Regions from separate parts of the Homo sapiens genome. Here all the other regions are reported to be linked to region 1. The links are microRNA targets in miRTarBase. Many come from high-throughput screens and were not tested one by one. Region 1 holds a microRNA gene; each other region holds the end of a gene's coding sequence.
Evidence for each region. Region 1 holds the annotated microRNA hsa-miR-4691-3p (CCAGCCACGGACUGAGAGUGCAU, at 2,142-2,164, opposite strand). A microRNA usually pairs through its seed, bases 2 to 8, with sites in the 3' UTR of a target mRNA and lowers its output. Matches are read on the target gene's strand: a 7mer-m8 pairs with bases 2 to 8, a 7mer-A1 pairs with bases 2 to 7 and ends in A, and an 8mer does both.

Region 1 (3,282 bases):
CCGCCCTGCACCTCTGGTGCTCGCGCCTGTCTCCTCAGCACGTGCCCTGCTGGCGTCCCTGCCTTGCTGGTTTTTTTTTTTTTTTTTTTTTTTTTGAGATAGAGTCTCGCTCTGTCGCCAGGCTGGAGTGCAGCAGCACAATCTCGGCTCACTGCAACCTCGGCCTTCCCGGTTCAAGTGATTCTCCTGCCTCAGCCCCCTGAGTAGCTGGGACTACAAGTGTGCATCACCACGCCCAGCTAATTTTTGTATTTTTTAGTAGAGATGGGGTTTCACCATGTAGACCAGGATGGTCTCGATCTCTTGACCTTGTGATCCGCTTACCTTGGACTCCCAAAGTGCTGGGATTACAAGCGTGAGCCACCGTGCCCGGCCTGCCTTGCCTGTTTGTCAGCTGCTGGCGTCATCTGCCAAGAACCCCCTCTCACGAGGGGGCTGTTCACCGCTTTGTTCAGTGTAGCACCCGCTGCCCTAAGGGTCTCACCCTGCGGTGAGTGCTGAGTTACAGTCCCGCCTCGCCTCACCAAGCTTTCCAGATATTTTGAGTTTTACAAATTGAAGGTTTGGGGCAACCCTGCATAAAGCAAGCTCACTGATGTCATTTTACCAACCATGTGCTTGCTTCTTATCTCTGGGTCAGCACTTTTTAGGAATAAAGTTTTTGTTGTTGTTTTTGTTTTTTGAGACAGAGTCTTGCCCTGTCACCCAGGCTGGAGTACAGTGGTGCAGCTCATAGCTCACTGCAGCCTCAACCTCCCAGGCTCAAGCGATCCTCCCACCTCAACCTCCCAAGTAACTGGGCCTACAGGGGCTAATTTTTTGTATTTTTTGTTGTTGTTGTAGAGTCGGGGTTTTGCCATGTTGCCCAGGCTGGTCTCAAACTCCTGGGCTCAAGTAATCCCCTCACCTTGACCTCCCAAAGCACTTGGACTACAGGTGTGAGCCACTGTGCCTGGCCCCTAAAGTATTTTTAATTAAGGTATATACATTGTGTTTTAGACACTTCGCAGCCTACAGTACAGTGTAAATCCTTTTTTTTTTTTTGAGACGAAGTCTTGCTCTGTGGCCCAGGATGGAGTATGGTGGTGCAATCATAGTTCACTGCAACCTCCGCCTCCCAGGTTCAAGCAATTCTCCTGCCTCAGCCTCTTGAGTAGCTGGGACTACAGGTGTGCAACCCCACACCCGGCTAATTTTTGTATTTTTACTAGAGACGGGGTTTCAACATGTTGGCCAGGCTGGTCTTGAATTCCTGACCTTGTGATCCGCCCACCTTGGCCTCCCAAAGTGCTGGGATTACAGGCGTGAGCCACCGCAACCGGCCCTAATTTTTTTTTTTTTTTTCAATTTTGGCTCACTGCAACCCCCACCTCCCGGTTCAAGTGATTATCGTGCCTCAGCCTAGCAAGTAGCTGAGATTACAGGGACCTGCCAACGTGCCCGGCTAAGTTTTGTTATTTTTAGTAGAGACGGGGTTTCACTATGTTGGCCAGGCTGGTCTCGAACTCTTGACCTCAAGTGATCCGCCCACCTCGGCTTCTCAAAGTGCTGGAATTACAGGCATGAGCCACTGTGCCCGGTCTAAATCTAACTTTTAAATGCACTGGAAAACCAAAACAGCTGTGTGACTCAGTTTACCCCGATGGTCTGGAGCCGAACCTGCAACATCGCCAAGAATGCCTACACTGTTGGGTGCAATCCTGTGCCTTAAATCTACTTCTCTCCATTTGATGGATGAGAAAAACAAGGTTCCGAGAGGTTGAGGGGCTCCCCAAAGCTACACAGCAAGTGGGGGCACAGCCCAAACTCAAGGGCACGTCCTAACTCTCAGTTCCTGGGTAGCCCGCTGGGGGAGGGGCTGGCTGGGAAAACCTTCAAATGTGCTTGGCAAGGACTCTCATATGCCCCCATCCCAGAAATGTAGTGTCCACAACTCACAGTGGGACCTGTGGCTGGCAGGCTCATCCTTTAGTGCTTATAAAGATGGAGACAATAACCTCGACCTCCTCGAGGGGTTGTGGAGATTACAGGAGAGGCTGTGAGTCACACACATGGCACAGCACCGGGTCTGTCTGTGGACAGCACTCACTGTCTGGAAGCCAAGGTTGTGACCATCGTGACTGCTGTTTGGGGACACTCCTATGCACTCTCAGTCCGTGGCTGGAGTAGAGACATCAGGGCCGCAGCTCATGGCCTGGAGGACCTGGGAGTGCTCCAGAGGACAAACTAGGATCTGGACAGGAGCCACCCGAGTCACAGAACACTGGGAGGGGTTGCTGTGCACACAGAAAGTAGCGGCGGCGGCTGCCGGGGCTCCTGCCAGGCACACACAGGGGTCTGACCAGAGCTCTGACCGAGTCATATTGTTCCCGTGCTGGCAGGCCTGGCCCCCACGGGTAAGCACGAGACCCACTAAGAGAACGGAAAGCCGGGCCTCAGGGGAGCAGCCACTGGGGAAGGGAAGCTGCAACAGGCACACAAGCAGGACTCCGGAAACGGTGGCTACATCCAGGGAGGCGTGGATGGCCTCAGGTGTCACCCCATGGCTCAGAGGCCCAGGGGTCACACCCTTGGCCAGACCCCAAGGGGGAACCTCTGTGTGTCAGGCGCCTGCCCAGGGCTGGAAGCTTCACTCTGCCAACTCACTGACTCTGTGCTCTGGTAACAAGCCCTCATCATTCCCATTCACGAGGGAAGTGGCTCAGAGGGGGAAAGGGACTTCCTGGGGACGCACATCAAGCAGGGGCTAGGGTTTGGGCCTAGGGCTGCCTGGCCTCCCTCTCCCAGTGGCAGGGGCTGGCGTGGTGGCCGGTTGGGGCAGGGGCTCACCTGGGCGGGGCAGATGGCCTCGCAGAGCTTGCAGGCAATGCAACGCTCCTCCCCGGATGGGTACCGGCGCAGCGCATGCTCCCCACGGAAGCGAGGGCTCAGCGGGCCCTTCTCGAACGGGTAGTTGATGGTGGCCGGTTCCCGGAACAGGTAGCTCAGGGTCATGCCCAGGCCTGTGGGCAGCACGGGTGTGGTGGGCAGGGGCACCCTCCTCCCCCATGCATCCGTGCCCACCCGGCACCTTCCCTGTCCCCTCATGCCCAGGACGCACCTCGGAAGAGCTCAGTCCACAGCAGGGTGCGGGCTGCCCGGTCAGTCACTGACTTCATGTCCATCTCGGGATCCTGCATGTTCACATACTCTGCAGAGAGGCGGGCAGGGAGGCCATGGCAAGAGGCCTCACACACTGTCTCCCTGGAGCCTCAGGGAGAGCAGCCTGGCCCTCACTTCCAG
Region 2 (7,713 bases), not on the chromosome of region 1:
TGTCCGCTCTGGCCCCCAGAACCCTATGAAGCCCAGCAGTCTGAGCCAATCGCCTACTTCCGGGGCCTACGGCTGGTCATGAGCCACGGCCCATACATCAAACTTATTACTGGCTTCCTCTTCACCTCCTTGGCTTTCATGGTGAGTGGGTTCTGACATGCTCAGCCTGAGAAGGAGGTGTAATGGGAGCGGGGTGAGCAGAGGTCTCTGGGGCTTGGGGGATGTCTTGGGGAGGCTCAGCCCCAACATCACCTCCTTCCTTGCATTTCCTTCCCTACCTTGCTCCATGCCCAGCTGGTGGAGGGGAACTTTGTCTTGTTTTGCACCTACACCTTGGGCTTCCGCAATGAATTCCAGAATCTACTCCTGGCCATCATGGTGAGTGGGACCTGAGCAGGGGCGGGCAGCCTGGGCTGAGGTGACATAGGCTGTGGAATGGTTCTTGGAATAGGCAGAGGATGTTTCTCAGGCTGGCCCAAGGTCATGAAAGGATGAGGGAGGCTTCTCAGGGTATTTGGTTGGACCTTGCGAAGGTAGGACTGTGAAAGAAAGAGTTTGAGGTTAGATGTTTGAGTAGTGAGCACAGCAAAAGCAAGGGCGAGGACACCAGGAACTTGGCTCAGAGGTTTGAGAGGGCAGCAGACAAGGTGGGCCTGGACCAGCTCTGAGCTCCCCTGGGGAGCCGTCAAAGGTGCCTGTCATCTTCGTTGCTGCCCACATGATGTCATCTGGCTGCTCTTGGGCAGGGCTGGGAGCCACTTTGGGGTTCTGGGAAGGGCAGGAGGGGCTCTGTGGCTCTAAAGCACCTCCCTTTAACCCCCTTTGTCCATCCACAGCTCTCGGCCACTTTAACCATTCCCATCTGGCAGTGGTTCTTGACCCGGTTTGGCAAGAAGACAGCTGTATATGTTGGGATCTCAGTGAGTGGGGTTGAAGAGCAGAGCCTGGGTTGAGTTGGGATGTCTGGTGGGAACCTCCCAGCTGATTCATCTTCCTGCACCCCCTTCCCTAGTCAGCAGTGCCATTTCTCATCTTGGTGGCCCTCATGGAGAGTAACCTCATCATTACATATGCGGTAGCTGTGGCAGCTGGCATCAGTGTGGCAGCTGCCTTCTTACTACCCTGGTAGGTATATACAGGCCCCCCTCCTCGGGTATCTCCAGCCCCTAGTCCCCAGTTTTGAAGCTCCTTAGGGAGAGTTCTATGCAGTGTTCTCCCACAGGCCATTCTGTGGGTCCAGGTTAGGAGTGGGGGAGGTCTGTCCTGTACAGTTGTACAGGTAGTGAGCTTTGCAAGAACACCTAGTCAGAGTGAAAAATGGGGGCTGTAATCTGGCCTGGGCTCCACTTGCCACGCTGAGCACCTCCAGGCAGGGTTACTTCCTCTTAGAGCAAGAGGCCTTTTCTTATTCATGTGAAGGTCCCATATCCTCACTGAGCTGTGTACCCATGGTACTGCAAGCTTCCAGAGGGCCACCTCTTCTCATTAACACAGAGGCCCGTTAGGTGGGTCAGTCCTCATGGCTGTCACTACTCTGCGCAGGTCCATGCTGCCTGATGTCATTGACGACTTCCATCTGAAGCAGCCCCACTTCCATGGAACCGAGCCCATCTTCTTCTCCTTCTATGTCTTCTTCACCAAGTTTGCCTCTGGAGTGTCACTGGGCATTTCTACCCTCAGTCTGGAGTGAGTGGGGTGGGGACCTGGGGCAGGACTGGGCAGGGCCAGGCCCCAGGTGCCCCATCTTCACCGTTCTCCTACCCCCTGGGTCCCATAGCTTTGCAGGGTACCAGACCCGTGGCTGCTCGCAGCCGGAACGTGTCAAGTTTACACTGAACATGCTCGTGACCATGGCTCCCATAGTTCTCATCCTGCTGGGCCTGCTGCTCTTCAAAATGTACCCCATTGATGAGGAGAGGCGGCGGCAGAATAAGAAGGCCCTGCAGGCACTGAGGTGAGTGGGGAGGGGACAGGATGCTGGAGGAGGGGACGTCACTGTGTCTAAACCCTCAATTTGTGTCTCCTGTGGCCAAGTCCAGACTCACCCCCCACACATCTTCTCTGGACAGCTGTAACACTTAAGTACGCACCAGGCACTGTGTTAAGTGGTCTTACCTTTATTCAACAAATACATACTGGCTGCCTACTATGTGCTAGGCATTGACTGCTCTAGTGAACAAGACAAAAATCTCTGTCCTTAAGGAGCCTGTTATAGGACGTGTGTATCCATCACCTCCCATACCCCTCCAACAACCCTAAGTATCAGGTTCTTAGGGTTCCCCCTCTGCAGGTGAAGAAGTTGAGGTTTCAGCAGGAAGAGTACCTGGCCCAGCTGAAAGGGGCGGAGCTGGGGTTTGAGCCTCAGCATTCCGGCTCCAGAGACTGCACTCTTCATCAGCCTCCTGGCATATAGGACCTCGAGTGTGGCCTGACCCTGCATCTGGGGAAACCAGTGGGCAGGCTGGAGTGAGTCATGCCAGCCCGTCAGCCAGCCCAGGCGAGAGTGTAGATCTAGGGTTTGCAGTACCCTGTGTGCAGCAAGGACAGTAAACAGACCAACCAACAGTTGAAAGTGGGAGTGAGCAAACTCTGTGTCCCGCGGTTCACTTTAGTCCGACAGCAGGGCCAAGATCACGTGAGGAAGGAGGCAGGTGGGGCTGAGGAGGGGTAAGGATGGATGCTTCCTCCAACCCATCTCCTCTCTCTCTTGCAGGGACGAGGCCAGCAGCTCTGGCTGCTCAGAAACAGACTCCACAGAGCTGGCTAGCATCCTCTAGGGCCCGCCACGTTGCCCGAAGCCACCATGCAGAAGGCCACAGAAGGGATCAGGACCTGTCTGCCGGCTTGCTGAGCAGCTGGACTGCAGGTGCTAGGAAGGGAACTGAAGACTCAAGGAGGTGGCCCAGGACACTTGCTGTGCTCACTGTGGGGCCGGCTGCTCTGTGGCCTCCTGCCTCCCCTCTGCCTGCCTGTGGGGCCAAGCCCTGGGGCTGCCACTGTGAATATGCCAAGGACTGATCGGGCCTAGCCCGGAACACTAATGTAGAAACCTTTTTTTTTACAGAGCCTAATTAATAACTTAATGACTGTGTACATAGCAATGTGTGTGTATGTATATGTCTGTGAGCTATTAATGTTATTAATTTTCATAAAAGCTGGAAAGCAGCTGCCTGTTTCTGTCTGTGTCCTCAGCCACTCACTGAGCCCTTCTGCCTTAAGACTCCGTTAGAGAACACACTGAGCCCCAGGTGCTACTGGGTGGGGGCGAACATGTCTGGAGTTGTGGCTGGAGTGCAGTGGCGCAATCTCGGCTCAGGCAATCCTTCCTTCTGCTTCACCCTCTCGAGTAGCTGGGACTACAGGCATGCACCACCACGCCTGGCTGATTTTTAAATTTTTTTGTAGAGATGGAGGTTTCACTATGTTGCCCAGGCCAATCCTTCTCACTGGACTCAAGCAATCCTCCTGCATTAGCCTCCCAAAGTAGTGGGATTACAGGTGTGAACCACTACACCTGGCCTCTTGCTAAGTCAAGACTGTTCTTATTTGAAAGATAAGAACACCCTAGTGTAGAGAGGGATTTAGCTAAAGTCACGCAGCCTTTAGTGACCTAACTGGAATTTTATCCCAACTCTGTAAGACTCCAATACCGTAATCGCCACTGTCTACTTCCTTGTGTCTGAGAATGACCAGGGGACCGGCAGACAGATGCTTGCTCTGGGTGTGCCTGTACACTGTGCTTCCTGCCTGGTGCATGCCTGAGCCTGCAGGGCTGGTGGGGCTGGAGGCCTGTGGGGTCCCTGGAGACTGGTGGTTCTTTCTCCACAACTGTTACTGATGGTATTGAAAGGTGAGAATGTACCTGCTGGATGTGTGTATCAGATGAGGGAGGATTTTACCACAGACGCACTGGTGACAAAAAAAAACCAAACACCTCCGGTAGGGAACAGGGTGGTGGGGAAGGCCTAGTTGGGAGCACTTGGCTAACTTCCATGGTATGAATAACTCCCACCATAGCCAATTTCAAGTTATCCATGGTTGTTCATTTGAACATTTCCTAAACATTTAGTAGTTGGCTTTTACAAGCTGGTAGGAGCTTGCCTAACACACCACTGGGTCTCACACTTAGGCCAAGCCCCCAAAATCACAAGAAGGCAAAGCTGGCAGGATCAGGAGCTACTAGTCAAATCTCCTGATTTTATAAATAGATAAATGAGGCCCAGACAAGAGAGGCTCTTAGGCTATTCTGGCTTGGTTCTTACCTTGAGTGTGGGGCTCCGTTTTGGGTGGGAGGGAGGTCCACCATTTTTACTGATGAAGTTCTGCCAGGTTACTTTGATAAATTACATTAAGCGTTACTAACAGGCATGGTTACATGTGTGTAATAAGTATGAATTCAGTTAGTCTTCAGATAGTTGTCAGAACTTCCCTATGAGGAAGGTATTATTGTCATCCTCACGTTAAGAGATAAGGAAACTGACGCAGGGAAAAGTTAAGTAACCTGCTCAAGGTCATTGGACAGTCACTGGAAGAGCTGATACTTGAATCGAGGTTGGCTATAGTGCCTGGGCTCTTAACCACTACTTAAGGCTGTTAGGTGAACCAATGGTTTTGTCAACACCAAGGCAAGTCACACACTGTCTTTGTATCAGCCATCTCATGTCAGGCTGTCTGGGCAAGGCAGGAGCCTAGAGTCTGTTATGGCCTCTGGAGCTGGCCTGCTCAGAGACTCTGAGATAATGTTTATAGAAGCCCACTTATACCTCCTCTCTCCCTCCACTCTAACCAGTAACCACCAAGTCCTGTCTTTAAAAAAAAAAAAAAATTAAAGTTTTCAGCTGGGCGCAGTGGCTCACGCCTGTAATCCCAGCACTTTGGGAGGCCGAGGCGGGCAGATCACCTGAGGTCAGGAGTTCGAGACCAGCCTGGCCAACATGGTGAAACCCCGTCTCTACTAAAAATACAAAAATTAGCCAGGTGTGGTGGTGCATGCCTGTAATCTCAGCTACTCAGGAGGCGGAGGCAGGAGAATCGCTTGAACCCAGGAGGCAGCAGTTGCAGTGAGCTGAGATCGCGCCATTGCACTCCAGCCTGGGGGACAGAGAGAACCAGTCTCAAAACAGAAACAAACCAAAAACCAACAAACAAAAACAAAACTAGCCAGGCGTGGTAGCACATGCCTGTAATCCCAGCTACTTGGGAGGCTGAGGGCAGGAGAATGGCTTGAACCTGGGAGGCGGAGGTTGCAAAGAGCTGAGACCATGCCATTGCACTCCAGCCTGGGCAACAGAGCAAGACTCTGCCTGAAAAAAAAAAAAAAAAAAAATTAAAGTTTTCCAAACCACTCAAGCTTGTTTCTTTCTTAGCCCCACAATTACTTCTCAGGCATTATGCTCTCTTACCTGGGTGAATAGACAAGCATCCTGTCTTGTCTCCTTGACTTTAATTTGATCTCCTCACCTTCTTTCTGCAAACTATCCAAGATAACTCAGTAGCTCTCCTGTTTAGAAACATTTCTGTAAACTGGGTGTAGTGGCTCTGCCTGTAATCCCAGCTACTGGGGAGGCTGAGGTGTGAGGATTACGAGGCCAGGAGTTCAAGACCAGCCTGGGCAACATAATAAGACCCCGATTCTATAAAACAAAAAACAATTAGCCAGGTGTGGTGGCTTGCACCTTGTAGTTCCAGCTACCCAGGCAGCTGAAGCAGGAGGGTCTCTTGAGCCCAGGAATCTGAGGCTGCAGTGACCTATGATTGTGCCACTGCACTCCAGCCTGGGGAACAGAGGGACACCCTGTCTCAAACAAAACAAAAAGTTTCCTAGAAATCCTTCTGTGAGTTCCTGTCTGAGTACCCTACTGACCTCCCCAGGCCCAGATCTAGATGCAGCTCTTTTTGCAGGCCACCTGCGTGACCCTGGTCTTGCAGCTCCTGCTGCAGCTCTACCTGGCAGACACCCATCCAATGTGTCTTGACTCCAGCAAGCCCCTCTGAAGCAGTCCCTACCCCTCTGCCTTTGGGACATCTCAGAGGGATCGTCTCTTTCATCGTGGTCTCCCACACTGAGCCGAGGGCCAGGCATGGTGGGGTGCGGCAGGCACGTGGAGCTGAGTGAATGGGAGCTGTGACCAGAGCAGGCTTTGGCTGGGCATCAGACCCAACTCCCACTGACCCACTGTGACACCTCTCTCCAGGTCACAATTTCCCCAAACTTCCTATGGGGATTTAGACTTTTCATTTTTTCTTTCTTTTTCTTTTTTTTTTTTTTTTTGAGACGGAGTCTCGCTCTGTGGCCCAGGCTGGAGTGCAGTGGCGCCATCTCGGCTCACTGCAAGCTCCGCCTCCCGGGTTCACGCCATTCTCCTGCCTCCGCCTCCGGAGTAGCTGGGACTACAGGCGCCCGCCACGCGCCCGGCTAATTTATTGTATTTTTAGTAGAGACGGGGTTTCACCGTGTTAGCCAGGATGGTCTCGATCTCCTGACCTCGTGATCCGCCCGCCTCGGCCTCCCAAAGTGCTGGGATTACAGGCGTGAGCCACCGCGCCCGGCCAGGGGATTTACACTTGAACACCCTTGCTTCTCTCCAGTTTCACACTCACAGAAAATTGCTCTCCTCTTCCAAGATCCCCTGTTGAATTCTTGGGGACTTCTTTCGGGGTGGGACGGGTGAAGAGGGGAAGCAATGTCTGTTGGGTCATTGGCTACTCTAGGTCCCTTCTGGACAGATCATACCTACTTATTCTTGGGAGAAGAGCCATATTGACTTCCTCTATGCTTGGATCCAGCATTACTACAACAAACCCTGTCTCTCCCTCTTCACTCGGCCCTGCTGCCCTGTCTTGCCAACCTCACAGCCCATCCACACCTCTGGTAAGGACCAGGTGCAGCTTTGGCGCCACCTGCTGGAAGAAAGGAGCAGCACCTCCACGTTTCAAAGAGGAAATTCCAGATCTGACATTGTTTTGGAATATCGATTCCATTGATCCGAACAGATATTTACAATGAGTCTACTATATGCCACACACCAACTAGGCTCTGAGGACAAAGTGGTGAACAAAATAGAGCTTACATTCTCAGTGGAGATCAATGACAAATAAATAATTTCAGATCGTAATAAGCATCATGAAAGAAGCGAGGTGATGTGATGGAGGAAACTGGTACGGAACTACTTTAAGTCAAGTGCTCAGGAAAGAATGTCCTGAGAAAGTAACATTTGGCTGGACACAGTGGCTCATGCCTGTAATCCTAGCACTTTGGGAGGCTGAGGTGGAAGGATCACTTGAGCTCAGGAGTTCGAGACCAGCCTAGGCAATAGAGTGAGACCTCATCTCTACTAAAGATAAAAAATTAAAAAAATTTAAAAAAAGAAAGAAAAAGAAAGTGATCCTCATGAAGGATGAGAATTAGCTAAATGTGAAGAGAGCTTAGAGGGAAAGCATTGCAAGTAGAGGAGACAACGCAGACCCCAAGGCCCCAAAGAGCTTGGAATATCGGAAGGACAGAAAGGAGACCAGTGTGGCCAGAGTGTAGTGAATGAGGCCAGGCACAATTGCTCAAGCCTGTAATCCCAGCACTTTGGGAGGCCGAGGCAGGTGGATTACCTGAGGTCAGGAGTTCGAGACCAGCCTGACCAACATGGTGAAACTCCATCCTACAAAAAATACAAAATTAGCCAGGCGTGGTGGTGCATGCTTGTAATCCCAGCTACTTGG
Region 3 (7,713 bases), not on the chromosome of region 1:
GTTCAAGCAATCCTCCCACCTCAGCCTCTCAAAGTGCTGGGATTATAGGCAGGCGCCATCCTGCCCGGCTAATTTGTTTTAATTTTAGTAAAGACAAGGTCTCGCTATGTGGTCCAAGCTGGCCTCAAGCTCTTGAGTTCAAGCAATCCTCCTACCTCAGCATCCCAAAGTGTTGGTATTATGGGTGTGAGCCACTGCACCCGGCAGAACTTGTTACATCTTAACGCCAGGAAGGAAAAAGCAAGCAGGAAAACAAAAACCTTAATGCTATTTGAATACATCCCCTTTAACAAAACCAAGAAGCATTCTAAGCAAGGACGGTTCTGTCCCCGGGCCCTGGAATTCTCCTGGAACCTGGGTAGATCCAAAAGATTTAAAGAGCCTCAGAATGTCCTAGCAGGTGCTGGTTACATGTGTAGGTCAGAGCTTCAGAAACAGACCTAACTCAGACTCGCAAGTGTCAGCCACCTGGAAAGAGGCCTTTGCAGGGAGACAGAGCCCAGCAGATCGGCTGAACCATGGGGAATCCTAGGCCAGCCACTGATGGCTACTGTCCTTGTCCACTCACCCAGGAGTACATCACAGAATCCACTACAGAAGGGGATCGAGGAAGAGATGGGAGAGGGAGGTGTCATCAAGAAAAATAGTTTCTCTTCCAGAATGTTGTTAGGACAAGCTTACAGAGCCAGGGGCCATGGGAGCCAGAACAATAGGGTAGGACTGAACAATAGGGTAGGCAGTCCCACAAAAGGGTAAAATGAATACAGGTTGGATAAGATCCCATTGGTGGCCCGATCCCAGGCCTTATAACCTAAGTAAATGGCTTCCTCCTCCCAAATATGCAGCTCCATGCTGCTGAACACAATTTCCTCTGGACCATGACTTGACCCGCCACTTCCCCAGGCAGCTTTCGACTCTGCCTGCCTAAATGGCCTCCTTCAAGGCAAGGCTCATAGAGGACTCCACCAGAACCCTCTGCAATGGGAACAATGACCGTGTCAATCCACCAGCTGCAATGGCAGGTGCCACTCCTGCTGGGTCCCTGAGATCCCAGAAGCAGAAAGGGCTTCCTGACACCCCAGACCTGCAAAGGCCCTGAGGAACAGTGTAGTCAGTCCCTTTGTGACCAGAGGCCACACACATCCCTTACAAAGTGGCCATGGCCTGAAATGCATGTAATTTATTAAACCAAAATACCAATGTGTGAAGGGAAATTGGCCACAGGATAATTGAGACTTACACCCATATATGGAAAGAGAAGTCATTTTGTCATGTGAATAGCATCCCCCAATGCATCCATTTCATGTATGTAGGGCTTTGTTAATTATGTGTGCTTAGAATGAAGGACATCTTGGTTCTCTTAACTGTAAAATAAAAGAAGGGTTGAGATTTTCTTGTAAAAAAAAAATTTTTTTAATGCCTGCTGGACATGGTGGCTCATGCCTGTAATCCCAGCACTTTGGGAGGCCACAGCGCATGGATTGCTTGAGCTCAGGAGTTTGAGACCAGCCTGGGCAACATGGTGAGACCCTGTCTCTACTAAAAATGCAAAAAAAAAAAAAAAAATAGCTAGGCGTGGTGGTGTGTGTCTGTGGTCCCAGCTACTCAGGAGTCTGAGGTGGGAGGATTGCTTGAGCCTGTGGTGGTGGGTACTGGGGATGGGGTGCAGAGATGCAGTGAGCCGAAATCACGCCACTGCACTCCAGTCTGGGCGACAGAGTGAGACCCAGTCTCAAAAAAAATTAAAATGTAAAAAAAAAAGCCATTAATCTAAAATTTTCCAAAGCCTAATTATGAACCACTGGAAGGGGGAACTTCAGGGCAGGGTGGGTTGTGCTAAGAGTGAGTTACTGCTTACGACTGGGGGAGGGTGAGAGGGGAAGGAGTTCATCCTGCATGCGGGGTGGGGGTGGAGGGTGTGCATGAATGTCTGTCTGTGGGAGTGTGCTTATGAGTATGTGAGAGTGTGTGACAATGGTGTCACAAATTGGTGTATACACGTATGTGTGTCTAGTGTGTGTGTGTGTCTGTCTGTCCGCCTATCTTGGGGGTGAAGGGCTTGAACATATAATCAATTCTTAGAGATAGACTTATAGAATGGAAATGATTGAGACCTCTGGTCTCTGGAAGTCCTCTTCTGGGCGGATTCTGTCATTGCATTTCCGTATGCTGCAGTATCCACAAAGTAGAACCTTGTGATGCTCTCATGTTCCCTTCCAGCCTGCTTTAGGACATTCTGTGTTCTTAAGGAAAGTTTGGAGGCCGGGCGTGGTGGCTCACACCTGTAATCCCAGCACTTTGGGAGGCGAGGCAAGTGGATCGCCTGAGCTCAGGAGTTTGAGACCAGCCTTGGCAGCACGGTGAAACCCCATCTCTACTAAAAACAAAAAAATTAGCCTGATGTGGTGCCCTGTAATCCCAGCTACTTGGGAGGCTGAGGCAGGAAAATCGCTTGAACCTGGGAGGCAGAGGTTGCAGTGAGCCAAGATCGAGCTACTGCACTCCAGCTTGGGCGACAAAGCGAGACTCCATCTCAATTAAATAAAAAAAAAGGTAAAGTTTGGGTTTTTATGAACTAATTTTCAAGCCTCTCGGGCAACTAGAATTGAGAATGGAATCCTCTCCGTCCAGAAAAACTTCCACACAGCCTGAAAAGAAGAATTTGTTCATTATTCGTCCATGTTTACATTTTGTATGGTATCTCTTGAAGAACAAATGCATTTTGTTTTTTAAAACACACTGTAATGAAGATTTTGGTCCAGCAGAACAGCTCTGGAATATTTCTTACCTCCTTACACACATGTAGGTTTTTAGGAGAATCAAGAGGTGTGGGCTGGGGGCGGAGCTGAAGGCAGAGTTGGGACAGGGCTGGGGAAGACCACCCAGAACCAGCTCCTTTCCTACAACTCCACGTAAAAGTAGAACAAGAACACCCAGCAGGGTGTCGATGCCAGTCACCTGGACAAGGACTGTTCATGGGTGTCTTTGGAGGCCTCTTTAAGGTTCCTTTAAAATGTCTTTGTGATTCACAACTGAAGTATGGATTGTCTCTAATTCAAATGCCCATAATCTCAGGTTCAAACTTGCTCTCACCATTATTTTATTTTATTTTATTTTATTTTATTTTATTTTATTTTATTTTATTTTATTTTGTTTTTCATTTCATTTCATTTCATTTCATTTCATTTCATTTCATTTCATTTCATTTTGAGACAGGGTCTCACTCTGTTGCCCAGGCTAGAGTGCAGTGGTGTGATCTCAGGTCACTGCAACCTCCACCTCCCAGGCTCGAGGTATCCTCCCACCTCAGCCTCCCTAGTAGCTAGGACTACAGGTGCCCACCACCATGCCTAGCTAATTTTTGTATTTTTAGTAGAGATGGGGTTTCACCAGGTTGGCCAGGCTGGTCTTGAACTCCTGACCTCAGGTGATCTGCCTGTCTCGGCCTCCCAAAGTGCTGGGATTACAGACATGAGCCACTATGCCGGTATGCCAGGCCTGTCCTCACCATTTTAAAAGAAGCCCATACCATTCATTTTATTTCTTGAAACCTAAATGGAGAATGGGGAATGCAAAAAATAATAAAAAATAAAAAATAAAACCCAAAAGAAATTGGTTCCATTTAAACATTTTTATAATTTGTTTCATTTTCAAGGCACAAAGAGTTTATGTCAATCATTTTAATGTCTAAGAATACAAAGTTAGCACTAGTAACATCTGGTAGTCTAATCATTTATCATGCTTAAATGTAACATTACAAAACTACATTTTAAAATCTGCCCCCTAACCAGATGTGAAACAACGTGGACAAGGGTGACATGTGCTAGACCCAATCTCCAAAAACGTATGGTTGACAAAGACAGCTGACTGCTGGGGTAAAACTGCAGCAGTCATAATCGAAGAGCGAAAGAGGCCACTCTATTAAAGACTTTGTTTCTTTTGCTAGACATTTTTCACCTAATCCCAGGATAGTTTCTGTTAATGCATCTTACTCTCTTTCAAACGAATCGTCCCTAGAGCAGGTGTACACATTAAAAATGAGCTTTATAGCATCAAACACATACCACAACCAACTCTACAAGGAGGGTTTTCTGTAAGATGTGTACGACTGTCCGAAGAACACATTCTGGCTGATAAGTCTCAGCTCCTGTGAGGTCCTGATGAGTATCTAAACAACCTCACATTTTCTCTTCCACGCCTAGGGTTAAGGCCAGCACTCAGCCCACACACAAAGCTGTGATGAGAGGTTGGTTAGGGATGGTGGAGGCAAAGCCACAGATCAGCCAGAAACTCTTTTGAGTCAATAGTTTCTACTCCCTCCCTAACTGGACCGTTTACCAGAACTGCCCAGGACTTGTCACCATGAATTTAATCTCCCTGGATTTTCCCTGCTTGATGTCTAGATGAGACAATGAAGGGCAGAGAAGTATTGCTATCCCCACACGATACCACCAGCACTGAGGGACTGCAGCCTTGGGTCTCAGAGAGAGCCGCCCGGAGAAGGAACCAAAGTGTGCTTGGTTCACATTTCAGGGCAGGGAGGTTCTCCAAGTTGCAGCAGATATTAAGAGTCCTGCTGAAGGCACAGTCTCTAAGAGAGGGGAGGGAGCAAAGACAGGAAGCTGGAACCAGAGACACGGATAAGCACCCTCCCCCTTGCCTTTCCTGGAAGCAGAGGCAGTGGCATCCTGGAGGCAGAAATGAGGCAGAGTGGGGGTGACCCAGGGCTTCCGGTTCCTGCTGGTCATTGCGTGCGCATCTGTGGGCTTCACAATTCCCCACTCCTTAAAATCTAACCTCAAGCATCTTCTCTGGCACTGCGGTGCCCAATATTTTTGTATGGTGTAAGTCCTCTGTGTATGATCATCCAGGAATCACCAAGAGGTCCCCTCACCAGTGCTTTAAAATAAAATAATGCAATACCATATATGAATGAAATTGTGTGTGTGTGTGTGTGTGTGTGTGTGTGTGTGTGTGATAGAGAGAGAGAGAGAGAGAGAGAGAGAGAACAAGATACTGAAGATTTGGAACATGTTCTCCAGTAAGTTTTCGGTAATTAAGTGGAGTAAAATTGAAGGCGATTGTTAAAATGTCCTTCTTTACACCCTCTGATATTGCTTTAAAATATCAAGATAGGTGTGTCTCATTTTGTAATTACAAAGCAGTATTTTCATTTTGAAGAAAATTAAACTAATGTTTTAGAGAAGAAAAACAGGCTCTCAATGATTTAAAAAACTCTCAGAGACCAGTTTTTTAAAAATTGAAGGAATTGAACCCAAACCTAATTTGTTTTCAAACACACTGTTTTCGTATCCTTGCTCACTCAACTGAGAAATAAGACAGAAAACAGCCCAGCTTCATTTCATTCTTTTTGCAACATCTGAATATGCGTGTTCAATCTCTTGATCAGCTGGACACGTATTTGTGAACTCATCTCTAGCATAAGCATTATTCAAGTATCTCCAGATGCCAGTCATTTCAGAAGGAAATTCAAAATCTCTGTACTTCTTGGCCACAATCTGAAAATGAAGAGAAAATGATCAGTAAAGGGAAAACTTGCTAAGGTAGGCTCCCAAGTCAGACAGTCCATTCTTCTGAGGCATGCAATACATTCTTTCCCAGTTTCCCATGTCATCCCACAGTCATCCGGGCTACCCACCACGGCATCTTGACTTGCATAGGGCCATCTTGGGTGTGAGGAGGGCTATGAAGTTCCTGTACTCACTACAGTGACTGCACATAGTTCTGCCCACCAGTTTGTCACAGATGGGTCTTGGAATCCGCTGGCACGAGTATGCTCTGGACTCTGGTGGATTTCTCTTTGTGTTGCCTGTTACTTTCTTTCCATATGTTGTGCTACTGTGTTACTTGGTGCTATGTGAATAAAGACGCATGGTGGATCTGCTGTTTAAATGGTGCCCTCTCTTCTTCCTACTTGCTGAACCTCACTTCTCCAGTCCCAAACATCTGTGCATGTTAATCCTCCTGAATGCCATCATGCTGCCACTAAGAGCATCGTCTGATCGTGGGGCCCGCCTGTGCGGAGGAGAGATTCATGAACAAAGCAGATGCAAATCCCTACCCTCATGGGGATGGTGGGTGTAAGGAAGAAGCAGTCGAGAGACAGCACCAAGAGAAACACAGCAGTGTGAGATACTTCCTCTAGCAAGAGGGGTACAGTTGGGGAATTAGTCACAAAGATGTGCAGAACACTGGGGACTGTACCAGTTTGCTAGGGTTGCCATAATAAAGTAACACATGCTGGGAGGCTTAGAACAACAGAAGTTTACTGATTCCTAGTTCTGGGGGCCAGAAGTCCAAGATCAGGGTATCAGCAGGGTCATGGATCCTCTGAAGGCATTAGGGAAGGCTCTCTCTCCACTTCTGGCAGTGCCTTGGCTGTGCAAGCATAACTCCATCTTCACAGAGCCTTCTCCCTGTGTCTCTCTTTCCAAATTTCCCCAGTTTGCAACGATACTGGCCATCCTGGATTAGGTCCATCTCACTCCACGATGACTTTATTTTAACTAATTACATCTGCAAAGATCCTATTTTTAAATAAGGTCACATTCTGAGCTACTGGGGGTTAGGATCTCAACACAGGAATTGGGAGGAGGGCACAATTCAACCTGAAGTGGAGACCCAGAGCCATAAAGGCCAGTTGGGCTTTGCTGCCTCCTGTCCCACTGGTTCCCAGGATGTCTGCATGATGCAGGCATGGGGTTAATGAGAAGATCTTTGGGGCTTACTGCGCAGACTTTGGAGGCCAGCAGTCATTGATGCAATGTGACAGCAAAGAAGGACCATATAATTTTCAGAGAGCCTCCTAAATTGTTTGACACCTCTTCCTTGAATGCCAACTTCTTGATGCTCATGTTAAGAAGTCCGTTTTACTTTTGTTTGTATGTACCTGGTTTTTCTTTGCCCATCTTTTTATTTTAACATTCCTGAGTACATTGTTTAAGGCCATGCCTATGAACGTGACACTGAACTTGGTTTTCTTTCTTCTGTATGCATGTGTGTGTCCCTCTTTCTGGTCATTTAAAAGGTTTATGGTCATGTTAATTCTCCAGTGGTTTCCTACATAAATTTAAATATATAGGAATTCTCTATTTCTTGATTTATCAAGTTTTTTTTTTTTTTTTTTGTTTTTTTGAGACAGTCTCGCTCTGTCACCCAGGCTGGAGTACAGTGGAGGATCTCGGCTCACTGCAACCTCCACCTCCCAGGTTCAAGCGATTTTCCTCCCTCAGCCTCCCGAGTAGCTGGGATTACAGGTGTGCACCACCATACCTAGCTAATTTTTGTCTTTTTAGTAGAGACGGGGTTTCACCATTTTGCCCAGGCTGATCTCGAACTCCTGGCCTCAAGTGATCCACCCGCCTCAGCCACCCAAAGTTCTGGAATTACAGGTGTGAGCCACTGCACCCGGCCTTGATTTACTAATTTTAGATGCTGCCTGTTAACTCCTGATGATGACAAATGAGGGAATTTATGTATCTGTGCTTCTTTCCATTTCTTCTGTATTATCCTCCTTCCAATGGTGGTAATGACATAGTTTATTATATTCTGACTCTATTCTGTCCGTATAATTCCCACTGCTGTTTGGTCTTAGGACTAGTTTCAGATTTAAAGGGGTTCTCTGTTTAGGGCCTGTTCTTTTATTTCACACACCTTCTCTGTTTCTGGATTCTTACTTTGATTATGATTTTG
Region 4 (7,713 bases), not on the chromosome of region 1:
CCCCAAAGGCCGCCTTCCCCATTCCTGCTAAGCCTCCTTTTTTCACAGACCCCCTGCATGTAGTGGGCCCAGATAAGGCCTGTCCTTGGCACACATTAGCCCCTGCAGACCTCATGACAACCCCATGGGATGGACTCCATTAGTACCCTGGGTTCAAATCCTGCCTCTGCTGCTTGCTAGCTCCAGTACCCTGGGATTTATTTATTTATTTATTTTTTTAGAAACAGAATCTCACTCTATCACCCAGGCTGGAGTGAGATCTTGACTCACTGCAACCTCCGCCTCCTAGGTTCAAGCGATTCTCATGCCTCGGCCTCCCAAAGTGCTGGGATTACAGGCGCCACCGCACCTGGCCCCTGGGAGAGTTACTTAATGTTTCTCTACCTCAGTTTCCTCAGCTGTAAGAAAGCAAGGAAATAAAATAAAACAGATGTCAATAGTAACTATCATAAGTGGTAAGACTAGGGTAATTTTCATTTTCTTCTTTAAAATTTATTTCTAAAATTTCTGCAGGGAGTACACATTGTTTTCATAATCTGATAAATATATATGTGCATACATACACACACACATATGTATCTATTTTTTGACAAAACAAAAACCCTGCCCTGTGAAACAAGCAGGTTTAATTTGAGGTTCAAATGGAAAAGTGGGTCTGAAAGGGCTTTGAGAAGGTGTGAAGCCCCTTCCAGTGGTTCCCAAGCTTCTCTGCACTTTGGGATCACCTGAGGAGTTTCACAAATACAGAAGCCTGGGTCCCACCCCCAGAGACATGACATAGTTGGTCTGGGCTTTAGCATTTTTGAAAGATCCCAAATAATTCTAAGGGCAGACCAGCCTGGGAATCATTGCCCTCTAGGTTATGCTGTGCAGGCCCCTGGCAGAGTGGGGGAGTCTGCACCCAGTGGTCAGACCTTTCTTCTCACCCCCACTCTGTCCCACATGTCAAGGGCAGGGGGAGTCCCCGATTGGGAGGACTCTGGCTACAAGATGGGATGTAGACATCCTAGAGCCAGCCCAGTGGCTGATGTCACCATTGGCCGCCCTGCAGGCCAGGCCAGGGCCCGGGAGCTTTAGCTGGAGGCTTGCCTGCTAACTCAGTACATATTTCCTGAGCATTTGCTCTGGACCAGGTTCCCGGAATCCAGCAGCAAACAAGACATAGCAGAGGAGTCCTTACTGGAGTTGCCCTCCCCTTTTCTACCACACCGGGGTGGGGGCTGGAGACACTCTTCTCCTGCGGGCTCAAAGCCAGGTTTGAAGGAGTCTCTGAGTCCCTCCTGCAGAGCCCCAGCCTGGGGAACTTGGCTTCGTCTCTGGGGCCCCAGGGCAGCAACGTGCCTGAGGGCAGCTGAGGGGAGACTGGAGAGGGGGCCTCTGTGAATTCTGATGTCGGCCACCTTCCCGGGTCCCACCAGCTTCAGAGACGGCAGGAGGAGGGGAAATGAAGGACCTGTCCTGGATGAAGGCTGTCATCCAGCCACTTTCCTGGCATTTATCACTGCCTTTTCGTCTCTTTTTCCTGGTCCACACCCACCAATGACATGGACTATTACTGGAGAGGAATTGGCAGGGAGCAATACGAGGCTTCAGGGACCTGGCCCCTCCTTCCCCGAAGCATCCGCATCTTCCTGTAAGCAGTTGCATAACTTCAGAGTTAAGTCTATGGGTATCGGCGTTTGCGTTTAACACTGGCTCCAGCACTTACTTGCTACGTGACTACGGGGAAGTTACTCAGCCTCCCTATGCAGTACTTTCCTTTTCCGTAAGATGGGGGAGCACGCCTGATGGTGTGAGGGCTAAATGAATTAACACGAGCTAGGTGCTCAGAACAGTGCCTGGCATACGGTAGGCACTGGGTAAAGGAGGGATGTCATTCTGCCCCTGCTCACCCTCAGCTCCCAAAAGCCCTCTTCTCTTAGAGCTCCTGCCCAGCCTTCCTTCTCTCCCCATGCCCTCCCTTCTCACTCCACAGCCTGAGTCCCATCAGCCCAGTCCCACCCTCCTTTTCTTAATCAGACTCTGGCTAAGCCTAAATCAGAGCCTCCTTGGCTGACATGCCCCAAGAACTCACCACTTGCCTGGAAGTTCACTCTGAAGTCTACCTCAAGTTTCTCCTGCTGCTGTCGTTGCCTACTTTGTGCTGCTCTGAGGTTCCTGGGTCCTGTTCCCTGGCTTGTGAGCCCTTTGACAGCAGGAAAGGCTGGTGGTCCTTGCACAGCTGTGCCCTGCCCAGCAGGTGGATCCGGCCCAAGAAAGCCAAAAGAGGGTGCTGGGCAGTGTGGAGTTCCTCCCAGAACTCCACCTCCTGCGAACCTGAGTTGCCTGAGGCCACAACAGAGCTGAGCTGAGACGGGGAGGCCTGGGGGCCACTCCCGTACCGGGCCCCCAAACGACAGGGGCTGTCTGCTCTACTGCCTCTCCCAGGAATCACACCCTGCCTACCTGCCTCATTAATTCCCTGGCCTACAGGACAGAGATGTTGGTGCCTGCCAGGTCCCTGGGCCCCAGAGAAAGAGCCATTAGCAACTATAGGACCTGTTTCCCATCCTTATCCAGGGCCAGCATCACTCACTGCAGCCCACACCCCTCTCTCTCTCTCTCTCTCTCTCTCTCTCTCTCTCTCTCTCTCTCTCTCTCTCTCTCTCTCTGAGCACACTGAGAAACTGCTCAGTTCAGGGGCAGGCTTGTGGGCTGCGGGAGGGGACCTGAGATGGGAGAAGACATTGGGGTAAAAAGGATCAGTGAAGGGCCCAGTAAAAGAATCAGCTGGAGGGCCGGGCGCGGTGGCTCATGCCTGTAATCCCAGCACTCTGGGAGGCCGAGGCGGGTGGATTATGAGGTCAAGAGATCGAGACCATCCTGACCAACATGGTGAAACCCCGTCTCTACTAAAAATACAAAAAATTAGCTGGGTGAGGTGGCGGGCGCCTGTAGGCCCAGCTACTTGGGAGGCTGAGGCAGGAGAATGGCGTGAACCCGGGAGGTGGAGGTTGCAGTGAGCCGAGATTGCGCCCCTGTGCTCCAGCCTAGCGACTGAGTGAGACTCCGTCTCAAAAAAACAAAACAAAACAAAACAAAACAAAAACACACAAAGAATCAGCTGGACCATGGGAATCATCCACATGGAGTCTGGAGGTTGAATGGGGTCCATTAAGGGAATCTAATCCAACTTTGGCAGCTTCAGATGCTGGGATCTTCTCTACCTCACCTTTGCCAAGCATTACCTGTCTTCTTGTGCGCCTCTGGTGATGGAAGGCTCACTGCTGCTGAGACGTTCCTTTCAGAACTGAGAAGAGGGGTTGGGGCCAGGGCCTAAGACTGTGTGATGCAACAGCCCTCTGTTGCTCCCTCTTTCTCCTTCGTTCTCTCTCTCTGTAACTCTGTTCCTTGAACTGTCTTTGCTTGTCCCCCTATGAAACTGGGGTTTCCATTGATTCAGCCAGGAAATTCCCCAGTACCTGAAGGATTACAAAATACCAAACCCAGGCTGGGGGCGGTGGCTCACGCCTGTCATCCCAGCACATTGGGAGGATCACTTGAGCCCAGGAGTTTGAGACCAGCCTAAGCAACATTGCAAGACCTTGTGTTTGCAAATAGCTAAAAAATTAGCCGGATGTGGTGGCATGTGCCCATGGTCCCAGCTACTTGGGAGGCTGAGGTGGGGGAATCACTTGAGCCCAGACAGTTGAGGCTGTTGTGAGTGGCGATCATGCCAATGTACTCCAGCCTGCGCAACAGAGAGAGATCCTGTCTCAAAAAACAAACAAACAAATTCAGTGCCTGGCACATGTTGTATATTCAATTTGTGATGATGGTAAGATGTGACAGACATACAAACGAAGACCATGGCCGTCTCTCCAAGACTCTAAAGCAAGCTCTCCGAGGGCACTGGAAACCCCAGCCCTAGCTGATAAGGGGCAGCCACCATTCAGGAGGTGAATATTATGGAATTCTGGAAACTTCCACAAAAGCTCCAAATAGAAGTGTGTGAATGATTCTGAGTCTCGGCTCCCCAGCTGCTTGGACCCCCCAGCCACACCCTAGCTGCCCCTCAAATGCATCCAGAGACTGACAACTCAGGCCAAAGCCCTGTGCTTGGGGACACCATGGCATTGGAGCAGGGGGCGGGACCCCCAAATGTGACCCCTGGGAGGTGTGTTTTGTATGGTGGGGAAAGGGAGTGAGGTTGGGGCTCTGGAAGACAGGAGGGCATCGAGGCATATCAGAGGCCTTTGGAACATTACTCTTCCCAGGAACCAGATTCTGCTGGGAAGAAAGCCCATGCTTGCAAATAGAAATAGCGAGGGAGACCAGGCCAACAGCGCCCTGCCAAGCAGAGCACAGAGGGACCGCTCTAACACCGAGCAACATGTGATTAACAGGTTACACTAATTAGGAGCCAGCAGCACCCAAGGGAGCTCCTTGGGAAGTTTCTCTCCTCCTCCTCCACATCTCTTTTTTCTGATTATGTATTGAATACTGTTATTGTTGAAAATCTGAAAATACAAATATGTGTAAAATGGAAAGTAACACCCCCCCCCCACATTCTCCCTAAAATTTTACACCCACAGATGTGCGGCCAATATTTTGGTGTATTTTCCTTAAGTCGTTTTTCTAGACTTTCTTTGTTTGGAGAGTTTTGCCATACCCCTGCCCCTCAAGCCTTGTTCACTCAGCAAAGCCCTCCTTTGGAGTGTGAAAGGCAGAGGTGATGCGGCCCTGCTCTGGGATCCGAGTCCTGAGTTGAGAAGGGTTTTCCTGAACCTCCAAGCTGGTCCTCTGTGTCGTTGCTGTCCAGGAACAAAGGACAGGAGCTGAGGGACAGGAAACCCCATGGGTGTCCATCCTACCCAGGACAGGACAGGTGATCAGGAGCAACAGCCGAATCTCTTGGGCGGCCTCTTGGGGGCCACCTTCACCAGCGAGTCCTTCAGGCCTTCTTCTTGCATCCTGAGTGACCTATGTGACAGTGCCAGGCATCAGGCCTCTCTCTCACCTCCTACGGGCAGCACGGATGGGCCCATGGGTGCAGCTGGGGGGTGGGAGGCCGCACCCACAACCCCCACAACAGCTCTGCCCCTGCCCTGCATTCCACATGAGACCCGAAGAATTGAGTCACTGAGACTTTGACCTTCTCTTTCTGGCCTACTATGTGCCAGGCACTGTGCAGGACTCTGACTATGACAAAGAAGCCACCATTCCCTCCCTTGAGTAGTGAGAGAGACAGACAGGAAAAGGGGTGACTGCAGCCCGGGAATGATGGGGAGGCACACAGGGACTTCACACCAGGTCCTGGAGGGATCTGGGGAGGAAGGAGATGGTGACCGAACTGAGCCATGGACAAGGTATGCCAGCAGAAAGGGTGGGGGAGGTGCATCCCAAGCAGAGGGCCATGGCGCGGCTCAGTGCCGAGAGAGCTTGGAGGCTGGGGAAGCAAAAGAAGTCCATTCATTTCTTCGTGATATATTTACTGTGTGCCAGATGGTGCTCATCTGATCTAGCTCCCCTCATGCCTTACTCATTTTATTCATTTATGGAGCACCTAGGTCCCAGGTATGGGGAGAGGGGCTGAACAAAACAGACATGGCCCTGCCTTCCTGGACAACAAGAAAACAGATAAATGCATATATCATTAATATGTGTCGTGTCAAGAAGGGCCATGAAGGACACAAACAGGGGCTGTGATCCAAAATAGTGATGGCAGGTGGGTGATCAGGGAGGGAGTCTCTGAGTGGCTGGAACTTGGCAAGTGTGTGTGTGTGAGTGTGAGTGTGTGTAAGAGTGTGAGTGTGTGTGGGTGTGAGTGAATGTGTGTGTGTGTAGGGGTGGGGGAGATGGCACTAGAGATGCTGCAGGCCATTGCAAAGCATTTGGATTTTAATGGAAGCTACTGGAAGTTTGGGAGCAGAAGAGAGACACTCCTTTTCTCAGCCCTCTTTGCAAATGAAAAAACTGAGGCTCAGAGAGCCTAAGTGCCTGTGGGGAGTGATTCAGCGAACGGGAAGGGCAGAGCTGGAGTCAGGAGACTCTCAGTGCAGGGCTCTCTCTCCCCTCAGACTGGTGAGCCCAGGTCTTTAACTAGGTGCTTCCCTGACCCATTTCCTCAGAATGGGCCTTCCTGTCCCACCTGGGAGTCAAGAGTGGGGCCGGAGCTGTCCCAGAGGATTCTGCAAGGGGGGGGGTGGGGGCGGCGGGGGGCGGGCAGCACTTACCTGGCCAGGTTTACTACAGGCTCCAGGATGTTGTGACCCAAGGCGGCACTGCACTCCCCAAAATAGACCCCCAGTTCCTGCAGGCCAGACAGGGAGGGACATATGTGCCTTGGGAGAGACAACTGAAAGGCCAGGCCATACCCCGCCACTAAAGTCCCGGCCATCAGAGTCCCAATGCATCCCTAAGCTGACCTCAGTGGCGAGCAAGACAGCCCCATCTCAGCGTGGGCCACGGTCCCTGCCTGGAGCCCTTTGCCCACTGTCCCTTCACCCCGGCTGGCCAAGGTGTCAAGGAATGCATTGAAGAGACATTTCACAGCCTTCGGAGTGGCATGGGAAGCCTGCATCCCAACTTGGAGAAATGCCCCTGGAGACATTTTATAAATGTTAGTTATGTTTTTTAATTTCAGAAATATTTCATTGGGGGAATATTGGAAGATATAGTATAAGACAGTACCAGCTCAATATCTAAACCACTGCTGTTAGTGTTTGGGTAGATATTGCCATTCTGTTTTATATAACCCTTTTACGGGGCGGGGGCTAACTGTCCTGTACAGTTAGGTTAAACCACACGAAATTGCTATTTTTGGCAAGCTCCAGTCAAATATCAGCAATTTCATATGTTTCAACCTAACCTATATCTAGATTTGTAGCTGCTTATATGATTTTCTATTATATTGTAAGCATTTCCCCCACACCCTTAAATATTTTTCCAAGACAGGATTCTTAATGGCAAATACTAACCTCTCACATGAACATCCACAGTTTAACCACCAATTGCTGCCAAATGTTTGTTCTTATAAATAATATTTGAAAACCCTCATATAAACCTGTTCGATTGTACGTTATACATGGGTATCCATTAGGTGTTCCTTTAGGGATTATTACTTCTGAGTCTTCCCTTACGATAAATTGCTAGAGGATAAATTACTATGTCAAAGGGATGAGTTACTACTTTTAAGAAAAAGGCCGAGCATGGTGGCTCACGCCTGTAATCCCAGCACTTTGGGAGCCCGAGGTAGGCAGATCCCTTGAGGTCAGGAGTTCCAGATCAGCCTGGCCAACATGGTGAAACCCCGTCTCTACTAAAAATACAAAAATTAGCCGGGCGTGGTGGCACATGCCTGTAATCCCAGCTACTAAGGAGGCTGAGGTGGGAGAATCGCTTGAACCCGGGAGTCGGAGGTTGCAATGAGCCAAGATCGTGCCACTGCACTCCAGCCTGGGTGACAGAGCAAGATTCCATCTCAAAAAAAAAAAAAAGAAAGAAAGAAAGAAAAAAAATTCCCTTCCAGCAGGAGCCACAATGATGACCTCACAATTTACGGGAAGTGGGAAGAGAAACAGGAAGGAAATACAGTAGGAAGATGCCAAGAGGGGTTGTGTGAGAGGTGGGGCGAGGAGTGATTTTTCCCTCTATTTTTATTACTCTCCAGATTTTCTGGAATGTGGTTAAATGCCATTCATGAATAGATAGTGTTCACTGTCTGGCAGTGGG

Region 2: the mRNA of MFSD2A is a reported target of hsa-miR-4691-3p. The part of its 3' UTR that is shown has no 7-base or 8-base seed match.
Region 3: miRTarBase lists CLIC6 as a target of hsa-miR-4691-3p. Seed matches in the 3' UTR shown: 7mer-A1 at 4,280-4,286.
Region 4: the mRNA of RAB44 is a reported target of hsa-miR-4691-3p. Seed matches in the 3' UTR shown: 7mer-m8 at 4,034-4,040 and 7mer-m8 at 3,922-3,928.

The regions. Positions count from the first base shown.
Region 1 is chr11:68,032,831-68,036,112 of GRCh38, reverse strand. It overlaps MIR4691 (microRNA 4691), which reads right to left and starts at 2,216; the gene lies at 2,132-2,216. It overlaps NDUFS8 (NADH:ubiquinone oxidoreductase core subunit S8), which reads right to left. Exons shown (of 7, transcript NM_002496.4): 4 at 3,101-3,190; 5 at 2,830-3,002. It overlaps MIR7113 (microRNA 7113), which reads right to left and starts at 3,249; the gene lies at 3,191-3,249.
Region 2 is chr1:39,966,792-39,974,504 of GRCh38, forward strand. MFSD2A (MFSD2 lysolipid transporter A, lysophospholipid) reads left to right here. Exons shown (of 14, transcript NM_032793.5): 8 at 20-141; 9 at 295-378; 10 at 837-920; 11 at 1,013-1,125; 12 at 1,543-1,686; 13 at 1,778-1,954; 14 at 2,714-3,165. The coding sequence ends at 2,777. Among named protein-coding and RNA genes, the nearest start is that of MFSD2A, 16 kb to the left of the region's middle.
Region 3 is chr21:34,714,127-34,721,839 of GRCh38, reverse strand. CLIC6 (chloride intracellular channel 6) reads right to left here. Exons shown (of 6, transcript NM_053277.3): 6 at 3,617-5,519. The coding sequence ends at 5,358. Among named protein-coding and RNA genes, the nearest start is that of LINC00160, 19 kb to the left of the region's middle.
Region 4 is chr6:36,729,252-36,736,964 of GRCh38, reverse strand. It overlaps RAB44 (RAB44, member RAS oncogene family), which reads right to left. Exons shown (of 14, transcript NM_001257357.2): 13 at 6,216-6,292; 14 at 3,781-4,962. The coding sequence ends at 4,872. Among named protein-coding and RNA genes, the nearest start is that of RAB44, 35 kb to the right of the region's middle. RefSeq lists an enhancer at 1,204-1,705.